Regions from separate parts of the Homo sapiens genome. Here regions 2 and 3 are each linked to region 1. Evidence: fine-mapped expression QTL. A gene starts in region 1. Each other region holds a variant in brackets. All regions are shown on one strand. Distances are between the middles of the regions. Region 1 holds the start of KRT10-AS1 (KRT10 antisense RNA 1). Region 2 overlaps LOC105371777 (a long non-coding RNA gene). Region 3 holds the start of LOC105371777 (a long non-coding RNA gene).

Region 1 (2,568 bases):
GAAACTCATGGAGGTTTTATCATTTCAGAATTTCCTCACCCTTTTCCTTGTTTTTAATACTCTAGAGCAAGGAACTGACTACAGAAATTGATAATAACATTGAACAGATATCCAGCTATAAATCTGAGATTACTGAATTGAGACGTAATGTACAAGCTCTGGAGATAGAACTACAGTCCCAACTGGCCTTGGTATGTTAACTCTCATGAAATGACTTCAACTTTATCATACAAAGTTTCATGCTCACCTAAGAATATGCAATGCAACAAAAAAATGCAGAGTTGGAGGTAAGAAAGAGAAAACAAAGTGAAGCTCATGTTAATGGAGGAAAAGTACTACTAGTGTTGATCTAAAAGTGCTGAAACTGAAATGGTGCCATTAAACATACAACAAATTCTGTTCATTTTCTTATTCTTCTATATAATGCCTTACTAAATAATCAAATAAGCGTCACCATACTCAACTGAACAAGGAAGTCACTAAGCCACAAAAAAATCCGTTTCAGAAACAATCCCTGGAAGCCTCCTTGGCAGAAACAGAAGGTCGCTACTGTGTGCAGCTCTCACAGATTCAGGCCCAGATATCCGCTCTGGAAGAACAGTTGCAACAGATTCGAGCTGAAACCGAGTGCCAGAATACTGAATACCAACAACTCCTGGATATTAAGATCCGACTGGAGAATGAAATTCAAACCTACCGCAGCCTGCTAGAAGGAGAGGGAAGGTAAATTTTAAAATGAAAAGTTATCCCAGTTTCTTTTATTCAATATTCCAGATAGCAAGGCTTATCTAAACCCCAAGAAGATGCCAGAGAATGAGAGGAAGGGAGGAGAGAGGGTAGAGTACAGAAAAAGGAGTACGCAACCGCAATCTCACTTTCTCATGAATTTGGCCCAAAATGATTCTTAAGAGTTCTGTGAACTTAACATTGTTTTCAAAGGATGGGTTTTAAAATATATACCTGGCAGGGTTTTATTTTTTCAACACGTTTTGCTTATTTTCTAAATTAACGGCAACTGGAAAGCTACCCACCGTTTTCCAACGTTAGAGATAACCGAATGTGACCTCACCCCGTTTAGTTCCGGAGGCGGCGGACGCGGCGGCGGAAGTTTCGGCGGCGGCTACGGCGGCGGAAGCTCCGGCGGCGGAAGCTCCGGCGGCGGCCACGGCGGCGGCCACGGCGGCAGTTCCGGCGGCGGCTACGGAGGCGGAAGCTCCGGCGGCGGAAGCTCCGGCGGCGGCTACGGGGGCGGAAGCTCCAGCGGCGGCCACGGCGGCAGTTCCAGCGGCGGCTACGGTGGTGGCAGTTCCGGCGGCGGCGGCGGCGGCTACGGGGGCGGCAGCTCCGGCGGCGGCAGCAGCTCCGGCGGCGGATACGGCGGCGGCAGCTCCAGCGGAGGCCACAAGTCCTCCTCTTCCGGGTCCGTGGGCGAGTCTTCATCTAAGGGACCAAGGTCAGCAGAAACTAGCTGGGGTAATCAGAATTAGTTTTAACTTCCTGTGATGGTTTTTTTGCGCTTTAAGCTCTAGAGTTGTTTTAAAAAATTAAAAATCTTAGAGACGGTTCCGTTTGCATTTGTTCACAAACTACTCTTAACACCAGCCGTGAAAAATGGCATGATCAAAATGTCATACCTTAAGCATTTTTTTGGGCTTAACAATGTAAAGTTGAAATTTCCTTCTTTTTACAATATTTGCTTGTTAATTACTAAGGATCCCTACAGACTGTTTAAAATTTTTTTTCCATCATTCACACAGATACTAACAAAACCAGAGTAATCAAGACAATTATTGAAGAGGTGGCGCCCGACGGTAGAGTTCTTTCATCTATGGTTGAATCAGAAACCAAGAAACACTACTATTAAACTGCATCAAGAGGAAAGAGTCTCCCTTCACACAGACCATTATTTACAGATGCATGGAAAACAAAGTCTCCAAGAAAACACTTCTGTCTTGATGGTCTATGGAAATAGACCTTGAAAATAAGGTGTCTACAAGGTGTTTTGTGGTTTCTGTATTTCTTCTTTTCACTTTACCAGAAAGTGTTCTTTAATGGAAAGAAAAACAACTTTCTGTTCTCATTTACTAATGAATTTCAATAAACTTTCTTACTGATGCAAACTATCCCAATTTGTCAGAATTTATCTTTACTTAAGTACATAATACTCTTTAAAATTAAAGATTAGTAACCCATAGCAGTTGAAGGTTGATGTATCCAGAAATTCGGAAGACAGAACTATTGTCATGCCTTTTCTAAGTTTTTTAATCATGTATGTTCAGACCACCGTCAGTAAATTCACTGAGTAAAGTCTGTAAATCCCCAATATTACTCTTTAAGATACACAATATGTGGAAGGCTCCCAGCTCTCTGGCTTTAAATTATTTCAATCCTGGAAATTCTGGAATATCTCAAATAAAACCCCCAAAATAATAATAATTGGAAATTTTATATTTTCTAATTACCTGACTTCTCACCTTTGCCTTTTCTTACTTTCTTCCAGTTACTATATTACTTCTTCCCAATTGTTATATAGCTTGACATATCTTCTGACACCACCCAAGTAAAATC
Region 2 (2,854 bases), 52 kb before region 1:
TCTTTTGACATTTTATTTGCTTCTGTTTTCATTTCTATGGCAGTAAAATGGAATCTCTCTGTCTTGGGGGACACTTGGGAGTGAATAATAGTTAACAACCATAACATCAAGTTCTTGTGTGGGGAGTGCAAGTTTAACTTGTGCTTTATAAGATCTCTGGAGATGTAGTTACAGGTCAAAGCTAAAATGAAAACCGCATTTGCCTGTGTGTTTACAGAATTTCATGTGTCATGTTGTTGCTTATAAGCCATGAAAAGTCATTCTCTAGGTCTCAGCCCATACACTGAGAAATTCAAGGAGAAAGCTTAAAAGAAAAGAAAAAAAAAAGAGCACCTCCTGTTAGATGTGCAGGGCAGAAGCCTAGTGTCAGGTGTCATAGCTAGGGGATGTCAGAGTATCCTCTGCCCTTTTTATTGTCACCGCCAGCAGCAAGGTTGTGGTATCTATAGAAGGCACTGCAGGCCCGAATCCTATCTCTGCCTCCTCCCAGCTGCATGGGCGTAAATAAATCACTTAACATCTGGACTCTCAGATTGCTCATCTGTAAAATAGGATAAAAGTACCACCTGAAGCTGGGCGCCTTGAGGTGGCTCATGCCCGTAATCCCAGTGCTTTGGGAGGCCAAGGCAGAAGGATCACTTGAGGCCTAAAGTTCAAGACCAGCTTACGCGATATAACAAGACTCCATCTCTACAAAAAAATTAAAAAAAAAAAAATAGCCAGTGTTGTGGTGCCCACCTGTAGTCCTAGCTACTTGGGAGGCTGAGGCAGGAGGATTGCTTAAGCTCAGGAGTTCAAGGTTTCAGAGAGCTATGATCACACCACTGCACTCCAGCCGGAGTGAGGGCAACCAAGCAAGACCTTGTTTCAAACAAACAAACAAATAAAACCAGTACCACTTTAAGAGCTTGCCGTGAAGGTTAAAAAATAATGTCTGTAATTCAGCTGGCCCAGTGTCCAAAAAGTAGTAAGTACATAATAACTGATAATTCAAACAAGACCAGCTCAGTCAAAATGCTTATAATATAGATTTAAGGAATCCTTGGTAAAAACCTCCATATGGGGCTAAAATCACTGGCATTTCCACTGACCAGATTTTCATTCTCTCAAGAAATTAAACAAATGGATCATGGCTTCTCTCAAGCTGAGACTGCCTTAGGTTGCTACATTCTTTCCACATCTATAGCAAATGTGTGATTTCTGCAAATCTCTTGCTTAAACCCCCTTTATTTAGAAATCCCACTTGCTTGCTCTTTGTGACGAGTTTAGGTTGGGGAGAAATATGTCCCTTCACATTTGTCCCTTATGTAATAATATAAAAGGAAGTTGTAATTGGATTTCACCACGGGTTCATCATTTGTGTCCCTGGGAAAGTGGCTTTTTTTTTTTTTTTTAATAAAAAGTCAAAACAGTCCTTCCATTTGCCAGAATTGATCCCAGGTATTCCTTATGGAGGTTTGCCATGGGCTTCAGGTGTGACCCCTCGGCATCTGTCCCCTAATCCCCAGTGGGCACTGCTAGTTCTGGCTCAGGACTCTTCACAATGGAAGAACCTCAGCTTCGGGGAGGCTGTAATCAGGGAGATAATATCTGGATATGCAGGTGGACAGGAGGCAGCAGTAAACTACGGGGAATCTAGGCTACAGGTCTGGAATTCCTCAGGAGTCAGTCTGTACTCTACAAG[G/A]CAAAACAAGTGCTAACCATTGAGACTAACTCCAATGAGATAAAGGCCAGCGAAAGAAGCATTCTCAGGAGAAAGGGCTCCCAGGGAAGGTGGAGCAGCAGGGGCTGCAGAAGATCCCTCTGCAGGGAGCACCTGCACACTGGCACCAAGCAAAGACATCTGAGTGCATGTTTCTGGGTGTGTGTGTGTGCATGCATGTGTACATTAGAATGAGAGTAACATCTGAATGTGTCTACATTGTGAATCCACGAATACTTAAATTATTATACTTTGTAGCTTGCCTTTATATTGATACACTCTTTTTTGATTTTGGAAAAATTTCCTCATACATAACACACATTAATGGCCCAGCAGCTTGATTTATCAAGAGAGAAATCAATAAGCATATATTGAATGCTGACTTTGTCCAAGACACTGGGCAAATGGACTAGACATTGAAGAATGGAGGTAACAGCAGACCTAGTACTTGAATACTTTCATGTTGGCTTGGTTGAAATTCTTGATTTAATTTTCAAAAAGACCACATCATTTTGACATAATTCAAGTTGTGTAACAGTTACAGGCTTACTTCACATATTATCTCTGCTATTGAAGTGTCCAAAAAAATCAGGTTATTGTTTTAGTAAGAGAAACAAAAAGTATTGCATATGCTTATGGAAAAACCTTAAACAATAGCCACATATTTGCTAATTTTTATGGTTGATTGTTTGTATTAAGTAAGTAACATCTCAATGATCTCACAGGTATCCAATAATTTTGCTGAGAAATTAATCTTTACCAGATAGATTCAATCTCCACTTTAAAATGTATAGAAAGCCTCCTTTTTGGGAATTAAACATTGGGCACTCATGGACATATAGAATGCCAACAATAGACACTGGGAATTACTGTGGGGAGCAAAGGTTAAACAACTATTGGGTACTATGCTTACTACCTGGGTGATGAGATGAGTCGTACCCCAAACCTCAGCATCATGAAATATACACACGTAACAAACCTGCACATGTACCTCCTGAATCTAAAATTAAAGTTGAAATTTTTTAAAAAAAATCCAGTAGTGGTAAATAAATAAAAATAAAAATCTTCCTTTTTATGAAAGGTATGTATTATTAAATCAAATAAGAATTCAATTTTATTTTAGAAATCTAGAATACTTGTGATATTTTTAAA
Region 3 (2,854 bases), 32 kb before region 1:
ACAGCTTGCAGAGCTGAAGGAGATAGAACTGAACGCTGGCCAGTGGGAAGACAAGAACTGCTCAAGGGAAAGGAAGGTCTCAGTAGGGAGGAGAACCTGATGAAAGTTTTAGTCATCATTATCATGATTATCTGTCACCTCCAGGGTACACAGGTAACAGTTGCATTAAAGAGGAGATCATTTCTGAGGAGCTAAAGGACAATATAATATTATAACACCAAAGACACAAAGCTGAAGTAGCAGGTTACACAATTATTTGCCAATTTGTCCACAGGGAGACTTTTTAGCTGCACTTTCCAAAGCATTGGCACTCTGAAAACTTAATCATATAAAACTACATTCCCAACATGTAGAATATGTATCATAAAACACTTGCTATACACATATATCCAAACATCTTATGTCCTTATGATAATTTATCTCTGAACTAAAAATCTATTTAGGATCACTATGGATCATTTAAATTATGTTTCATTTTGTCAGAAAAAAAAATCAAATAATAAAGCATTATTTTAACTGGCTTTTACCTTTCAGTTAAATTGAACTTTAACTAAACAATCAAAGAAAAATTATTCCTCTATCAATGTTGATCTAAAAATCTTTCAATTGTAGCTTTTTAACTAGGTCAAGCTCCAAGTCTCCTGACCCTAGATTTATTTATTCATTCATTCAACAGATACCTATACATATCCTGGCCATATCTGGTATTTTGCCTCCTCATCCAAGCCACTATTTATGTCTCTCTCCTGGCTGACCACACAGCTTCCACCTGTACCCACCTCTCTTCCACTCTTTCCACCAGAGCTGGGGGGATCATTTTGAAAAAGCTGATCCAGTCACTCCATTGCTTAAAGGCCTTCAAAGGCTTCCTATTGTCCTTGGAATAAAGACCAAAACCCAGCAAGGTATGGCCTGGCCTGGCCCCCTCTACCCTCTTTCAAATCGTGTGCCCTCTCTCCCCCTCTATCTTCTCCAAACCTACTGGTCTTGTTTACTTTATTTTTGTATATATTTAAGATATACAGCATATGAGGTTTTGATATACATATACTGAGTGACAGCAATACTACAGTCAAGTAAATTCTAACGCCATGCTCCTTCCCACTCTGGCAGCTTCTCACAAACTTTCCCTCTTTACCTAGAATGAGCCTCCACCCCCATTTTGGCCTAGTTAACAATCCTAGTCACCAGTTAGGTCCTAACTCAAATGCCCCTCATTAACCAAGTCAGGTTCTCCTATTCTACCTTCTCATACTATACTGTAGTTATCCTTCACAGCTCTTAGCGCAATTTGCAATTATACATTTATTTGTATGAATATTGAAATAATGTCTGGCTCTACCACTGCATTCTCTCTAAGGGCA[G/AG]CGGCCATGTCTGTTTTGCCCTCCACTGTAGCCCTGGCATCTAGCACAGTGCATAAAACAGCACATATACCCTACTGCATAGGAGACAATCAATACTTGTTGAATACCTGTGCACAGAATTACGTACAAATGCTAGAATATTCACTCAGTAAAAGCTGGAATAATGCCTGTATTACTCTCCTGGGCTCAAGCAATCTGTCCACCTCAGCCTCCCAAAGTTCTTGGATTACAGGTATAAGCCACTGTGCTTGACCACCTGTATTACTCTCTAGGTACCATTAAAAGCACTCAATAAACACTGGTTGCACAAACATTGAATGGTGGCGATATATTTCTTCTATTATTTTCTTGAAATAGTCATTGAATTTTTATCCACTGATTTATTAACTCTAAATTTTCCAACACTTATCTTTGGAAAGACTGAATGAACAAACCCTACCTTATTAAGGCGCAGAAGCTAAGGAGTGTCCATCACAAAGGAAGCAAAGAGGATGGTTTGCATAGATTCCATTTGAATCTATTTGTTTTGGTTACTCTATTTAAAATATGCTTGCGTCATATGAAATTGAATTCCACTTACTTCCTTCTCCTTAAATCTTAATAAAGGAATTAGGCTGGCTGTTTGAGACTAAAAAATCCATCAAGAAGTTGTTTGCATTTTACTGAGATATTTGTTGAATTCAATATTTCCAGAAAACCCTCAAGATACTTGTCACTCTATAGGGACACAAAATTTTCTTATCTAATATGTACAATCTTTAACTTGACAATTTCACAAGGCATATTGATATAAATCATATTGCTCAATATCTGGTGACTCAGTAGAAAGTGATCTTCAGTTTCAACAAGCAGTCTTTTAATTCATGACGCTTTTTCTTAAGGAAATTAACCTGAGGACTTTTTCCCATACATCTAAAGAGTACTAGAAGTTGCTTTCAAAACATAGAGTAACTTGGTTTCCATGTAGTATTTATAAGAAAAAAAAATCTGTAGATATTCACTTATAAAGGCAAGCTTGGAATCCTCTAATTCGTCATTAAAGTGTGCTTTGTATGTAGGCAATCGCCTAACCATAGATACAAAACTGAGTTATCTTAAAATGGCTGATGGAACACTGGCTTTCCATGAAAATATTCAGTCTGAAAATGTAATACTCCTGCCAATCTAGATCAAAATAGAACTTGTTCTCCCTTAATAACGAGGTGTTCTATCTAAAAAACATTGTGCTCTCTCTCTTTGGTGGTCTAGCAGTTAGGAATAAAAATTAAAAATAAGTAAAATACACTTTTCTCTCAATCAAACTAATATTTACTGGTCACTATGGAAGCAAATGGGAGCGGACTAGTCAGGTATGCAAATAACCTTGCCTCGCCAGGTATAAAGTGACCTGCCACAGAAGTTTGGAAAAGGGAGGTAATATAAAGGGCTGGGATATGAGGACCACTCTTTACAGCAGAAAGGCATCTGAGCAGAGCCTTGAGGAGTACATA

The links. PIP is the estimated chance that this variant, and not a neighbour inherited with it, causes the effect. A credible set is the group of variants that fine-mapping cannot tell apart.
Region 2: its variant is the best candidate, but not a certain one, in a credible set for the expression of KRT10-AS1 in monocytes after interferon gamma (Fairfax 2014, PIP 0.60).
Region 3: its variant is the best candidate, but not a certain one, in a credible set for the expression of KRT10-AS1 in whole blood (TOPMed, PIP 0.54).

What each region holds. Positions count from the first base shown.
Region 1 is chr17:40,817,672-40,820,239 of GRCh38, reverse strand. KRT10-AS1 (KRT10 antisense RNA 1) reads right to left here and starts at 1,095. Exons shown (of 3, transcript NR_160888.1): 1 at 1,032-1,095. KRT10 (keratin 10) reads left to right here. Exons shown (of 8, transcript NM_000421.5): 5 at 66-191; 6 at 506-723; 7 at 1,079-1,453; 8 at 1,758-2,123. The coding sequence ends at 1,764. RefSeq lists an enhancer at 1-585.
Region 2 is chr17:40,869,164-40,872,017 of GRCh38, reverse strand. The region is part of intron 1 of LOC105371777 (a long non-coding RNA gene); the gene reads right to left. Among named protein-coding and RNA genes, the nearest start is that of KRT12, 3.4 kb to the right of the region's middle. The variant G/A (reference allele first, on the strand shown) is at 1,685.
Region 3 is chr17:40,849,810-40,852,663 of GRCh38, reverse strand. It overlaps LOC105371777 (a long non-coding RNA gene), which reads right to left and starts at 1,866. Exons shown (of 3, transcript XR_934754.3): 1 at 1,804-1,866. The variant G/AG (reference allele first, on the strand shown) is at 1,365.